2 separate regions of the Homo sapiens genome follow, and region 2 is linked to region 1. Evidence: fine-mapped expression QTL. A gene starts in region 1. The other region holds a variant in brackets. All regions are shown on one strand. Distances are between the middles of the regions.

What was found.
Region 2: its variant is fine-mapped to the expression of TRADD in whole blood (TOPMed, PIP 0.99).

The regions. Positions count from the first base shown.
Region 1 is chr16:67,158,324-67,161,334 of GRCh38, reverse strand. It overlaps TRADD (TNFRSF1A associated via death domain), which reads left to right and starts at 1,426. Exons shown (of 5, transcript NM_003789.4): 1 at 1,426-1,497. It overlaps FBXL8 (F-box and leucine rich repeat protein 8), which reads right to left and starts at 1,378. Exons shown (of 3, transcript NM_018378.3): 1 at 1,279-1,378. RefSeq lists silencers at 148-237, 1,258-1,397 and an enhancer at 1,998-2,257.
Region 2 is chr16:67,004,604-67,007,103 of GRCh38, reverse strand. CES4A (carboxylesterase 4A) reads right to left here. Exons shown (of 14, transcript NM_001364782.1): 10 at 2,231-2,311; 11 at 1,711-1,864; 12 at 585-713; 13 at 287-359. Among named protein-coding and RNA genes, the nearest start is that of CES4A, 17 kb to the right of the region's middle. The variant T/C (reference allele first, on the strand shown) is at 1,519.

The sequences.
Region 1 (3,011 bases):
AGTAGCTGGGACTACAGGGGCACGCCACCACGCCTGGCTAATTTTTGTAATTTTGTTGCAGAGACGAGGTCTCGCTTTGTTGCCCAGACTGACCTCGAACTCCTAGGCTCAAGCGATCGGCCCGCCTGGGCCTCCCAAAGTGCTGGGATTACGGGCATGAGCCACCGCGCCCGGCCTGAGAAACCCCATCTTAACCCCGCCGGTTAGTAGAAAGTGACTACAGGGTTAATAAGGCGGGAGCGTTAATGTAGGCTTTTCTTTGTCAGGGACCATGAGCCAATCAGGAAGCGAGGCGTGGGCGGGGCAAAGCTGGATCCACCCCTGGAGGGGAGGCTCCTTCCCCGCCTCCGCCTCGCCGGGGAGATGTCCCGGGTGCTTCCTAAGACAGCCCCACTGGATGAAAAAAAACTTGGGTCTCTGGGACCTGACGGTTCTGGGGCCTGAGGGGCTCAAGATTTAAGTTCCGACCCCTGAGCAGCCCTGGCTCCCGCTGAGCAATTTGGGTTCGGCTGGAACTCCGCAGACCCACCCTGGAGCGCAGCCTTTAGAGGGGGATGGGTTACTGGAAAGTGTGCGTCCTCTTTGAAGTTGCCAATCCTGTTTGTTTTTGTTTTGTTTTGTTTTGAGACGGAATCTAGCTGTGTCGCCCAGGCTGGAGTGCAGTGGCGAGATCTCGGCTCACTGCAAACTCCGCCTCGCGGGTTCAAGCGATTCTTCTGCCTCAGCCTCCCGAGTAGCTGGGACTCCAGGCGCGCGCCACCTCGCCGGGCTAATTTTTGTATTTTTAGTAGAGACGGGGTTTCACCATATTGGCCAGGCTGGTCTCAAACTCCTGACCTCAGGTGATCCACCTGCCTCGGCCTTCCAAAGTGCTGGGATTACAGGCGTGAGCCACCGCGCCCGGCCGCCAATCTTGTTTTAAGGTTCTTAAAGGTTTGTGTACACAAGGCTTCACACTACTCGCCAGTTAATGTTCCCATATCTTCCGGGCTAACAGTTTCTCCCGGAATTTGTGCCACGTGTTTCCTGGGGCTTCAGATACGTTCGGCCGGGCTTGTACCTGGGACCCATGGGCACCCCGTTTTGAGTGCCCACTGGTAGCAGCGATCTTGAAGCCGGATCCCCAGGGGTACCAGAAAATTCTGGTCTCCAGGGGGCGCCCCCTTGATTTACCGAAGTCTGGCAGCTGTAGCTCTTACGAGCCCCCCGCCTCGTAAGAATCGCAAACCCCCAAAGTCGGGTCTTCCTGCCGTCTAACCTTGGGCGCTGGTGTCTTACCTGCTCGGCGGACCAGATGGGCTTTGCCCGGGGCAGGGGACTGGCAGCAGAGGACAGCGGACGGGAAGCAGCCACCGGGAGCCCGCGGGGCGGGACGCGCGGGCGGACGGGGCGGCTCGGGCTAGGGCACCGCCCCAGCGCCTCCGCGCACACCCGGAAGCGGCGGAGTAGAGCGGAGCCTGGCGGGCGTGGGAACCCAGGCCCCGCCGAGGCGGCCAGGTTAGTGCAGCAGGTGGGTGGGTGGGCTCCCCGGTGCGGGCGGGAGAGGAGGTGGATCTTGGCTCCGAAGCGTGGGCGCGGCGCAGATGTCACCGGCGGCTGCTCCAGCCAGCTGGTGGCGGCGGTCTACTGAGCTGTTCGAACACCGTGGGAGGCGGGGGACGGTACGGAATTTGGCCCCCGCAGGCTCCTCGTCCCTGCCAGCACTTTCGAGGTGCAGTAGGGCCCTGCAGGAGAGAGGGTGGGGGAGAAGGGGCTGGTTCTGAATACTTTCCTTGAGCGGAGACCCCCTTGCCCACCCCAGCCGATCGCACGTGCGAAACCCCAGCTTGAGGGTGGGCTAGTGGGAGCCTGGGAAGCTCCCCTCAAGCGCTCGGGAGCTGCGTAGCTGAGTAGGGGGTGTGCCCGGCGGGTCGCAAGGAGTCACAGGCTTTCAGTTCTGGGCCACGCCCACAGGCTGTCTCTGTCCACCCAGCCAGAGGTGGGGCTGCCCCCGGGACTGTTAGGTGTTCAGGGGGCACCGTGCGTGGCTCGTCCCTGGAAACAGGCGCAGAAGTTGTTAGGTCGGTACCTAAGCGCCCCACAGTCTCCGGCCACCAAACTTTCTCAGGACCCAGCCTGGAAGCCTCAGCCCCGCCCAAAAAGGGACGACTCCTGGTGGGTGGGGCGCGGGGCTTCCCAAGGAGGGGCTTCCGTGAAAGAACACGTAAGAAGAGCTGCCAGTCGGCGGATGCGAAACTAGGGCCCTGGCCTCTTTACCCTGTTAACTCGACCTCCAGCCTGGTTCACCTTCCCCATCTTCTAGTACTAGTGAGTGTGAGAAAGCATCCCCAGTCTCCAGGTTCCCAGTACTCCCCACCTCCCCCTCGACCCCCACAGACCTGATGGGCAGACAATGGTCCTGTTCGGTCCCCACTTCCACCCCTTGGGGTGGGACCATAACCAAGTCAAGCACTCTCAAGTCAAGGGGCCAGAAAGACATGAAAGAGGGAATGTTTCCAGGGGAAGTTCCCACTCTCTCCTACTCCCCAGGCCACTTTCGAAGGACTCCCCCCTTATCTCACCTCCGTGGCTGGCTCCCTATTATGGACCCACTTGTCACCTGCAGAGTTTCCTGTTTTTTCTTGTTTTGCTTTTAAAGAAAACAAATTTATTTTGCTCTTTTAATACAAAGAAAATATGTCTACTTCACATAAAGCAGAAAATATTGCTAAATACAAAGAAAATAAAAATCACCCACAATCCTTCCCCACCCCCACCTACCTTCCTTCATCCTGCCCAGAGATAAACAAAATGCAAACTTCCTGTTACTATCCAGACTGTGGTTTGGCGTAAGTACACAAGTATTAATGTTTTCTATGAAAAGATTAGAAGGCTGGGTGTGGTGCCTCACACCTGTAACCCAGCACTTTGGGAAGCTGAGGTGGGCAGATCGCTTGAGCCCAGGAGTTTGAGACCAGCCTGGGCAACATGGTGAAACTCCATCTCTACTAAAAATACAAAAACTAGCCAGG
Region 2 (2,500 bases), 150 kb after region 1:
TTCCAGCTCCCAGTACTGGGGCTGGGCCCAAAAGAGTGCAGTGGTGAATGACTGTGGAATGCTTGAGTGAATGAAGAGTGTGGGTCATGGATCAAGAAGGACACATTCTAGAGACGTTTAGGATCCGGTGACTGACTGAGGAAAGCTGAAGAAGAAGGGGCACCCTGTTTGGGCCGACTGGGCAGTTCCTGTAGGACATGCTGGGGCAAATATCCGAAGCAGCTGGCTTCTTCAGGTCCAGCACTGGGCAGGTAGAATGCCCAGATGTGCTGGGGGGCAGACTCACCCTGTGCGGGCAAAGTTGGCCCAGTATTTCATCATCTGGAGGCTAAGTGCCTTCTCCTTACCCATGGAAAGGCCTGGGGGCAGAATGGGATGTGGGATTTCGGACAGAGCAGGGGACACTGACCTCCCACCCTACTCCTGCTGCTTCTGCTGCTTCCGGAGCAGAAGACTTTCATTTGGGAGAGCATAACAGATTAGGAACTGGTGAGCTCCCTGTGGCCAGCCAATGGAGGGGTGGGTCTGCATCCAGAGGTGGGAGACTGGACACCCAGTTGGGGTATCAGGTGGGACCTTTGCACCTGTGGCGAAGGGGCCCCCAAAGAGGAAGTACATCTCATCCCCATGGTCTGCCCCATCAGTGCGGGGTTTGACGATTATTCCACGAGCGTGGTGCTCAAATTCATACAGGTAGACAGGGAGGCCGGCATCTGTGAATAGGGAAACTGAGGAGGGATGCAGGAAAAGCCTCTGCCTAGGCTTCTCATCCACCCCATGCCTCCCACTCACCTGCACCAAGCAGGAAAAAGAGCTTTGGCTTCAGAATCAAGGGGGCAGACTTGAATCCTGTCTGCACTACTCATTCACTGTGTGACCTAAAGCAAGTTGCTCTACCTTTCTGAATTGTATCAATAATTCCTTATCTTCAGACTGAGAATACTAAAACCTAATTCACAGGATTGTGGCCAGGATCATGGAAGCCTTCCTTTTCCCTGTTCTGAACCTTCCTTTCTTGGCCTCATATTGAAGGGTCTTTGGTGTCTGCATTTTCCAGCCCCCCCCCCTTTAACCTGTTACCCACATGTTCCCCTAGCCCCAGTCAGCCTGAACTTTCAAGGTGCCCCTAAGCCTGTCCTCTCAGCCAGGAAGCCTTCCCTGACCACCCCAGGCTTCTCCTCTGGACTGTTTGAGGTCCTGCCCTTGTTCCTAAGGAAGAACAGTTCCTCTCTTATACTTTTTTTGTTTTTTTTTTGAGATGGAGTCTCGCTCTGTTGCCCAGGCTGGAGTGCAGTGGTGTGATGTCGGCTCACTGCAACCTCCCCCTCCCAGGTTCAAGCGATTCTCCTGCGTCAGCCTACTGAGTAGCTGGGACTATAGGCATGCGCCACTACAGCTGGCTAATTTTTTTGTACTTTTAGTAGAGATGGGTTTTCACCATGTTGGTGAGGCTGGTCTAGAACTCCTGGCCTCAAATGATCCACCCACTTCGGCTTCCCAAAGTGCTGGGATTACAGG[T/C]GTGAGCCACCGTGCCTGGCCCCTTCCTCTCTTGTAGTTGATAGCATGCTGCCTCCTCTGTGATATCTTAGAATCCTATACTAGCCCAGAAGTACAGAGAGGGTAGGGGAGCAGTCGATAAGCCCAGTTGGTAAACAGCACACCTGGAGAGTGGACGGGGCCAGTGTGGCCACTCTTGGGGACCCTGCATACCTCGGTGGTAGTGAGCAGTCTGCAGTGTGGCATACACGAAAGTGGCATCTTGAACTATGTCCATCATACGGTTTCGTAGCATCTTCCAGTCATGCTCATTGACATTGTCCAGGTACTCCTCCACCACAAGTGGTACCTGCTCCTTGGTGATATTCTGAGTGAGGAGGCCACACTTACCTGAGGCCTGGGTGCCAGCTGGGCCAGAGGTGGGCCCACCAGTGACTTGGATCCATGCTCAGCCCCCCAGGAGTTTTTGGCCTGGGAGGGGGAGAAAGGGAGCTTCCTGGGAAAGTTTCTGTCTCTGCTGATTGTAACCCCTGATTTTGCTGCATAACTGCCCCTGTGACCCTGAGCACCTTACCTGTAAGCAGTCATCTGATCCCACAGCAAACCCCAGACCCTCCAAGAAAGATCCTTACCCTGGCTGGGAGCCCCTTTGCAAAGAGCAGCTACTAGGTTAAAAAAAACAGGGGGGTCAACCCTGTCCGAACTGAGCACCCCTGCCAGCTGGGTCCCTCACCAACAGGGTGCGGGTACTCCAGAGCATCTTAGTGATGGTTTCCTTTCTCATCGCCTGCCGGTTTAGCGGGAACTTCATGATCTGTTCACAAGACAAGGACCCCAGTGTGGGTCAGGCCTGAGCATTAGGAGGGATTCTGGCCAGAGCTACAAAGGCCCCAAAGGTCTTGCCCATCTAATGATGAGTTATCAGACACAGCACACAGCCCAGGAAGGGCCCATGACTCTCTCTTGTCCCCCTGCTCCCATCCTGCTCATCACTACCACCTGG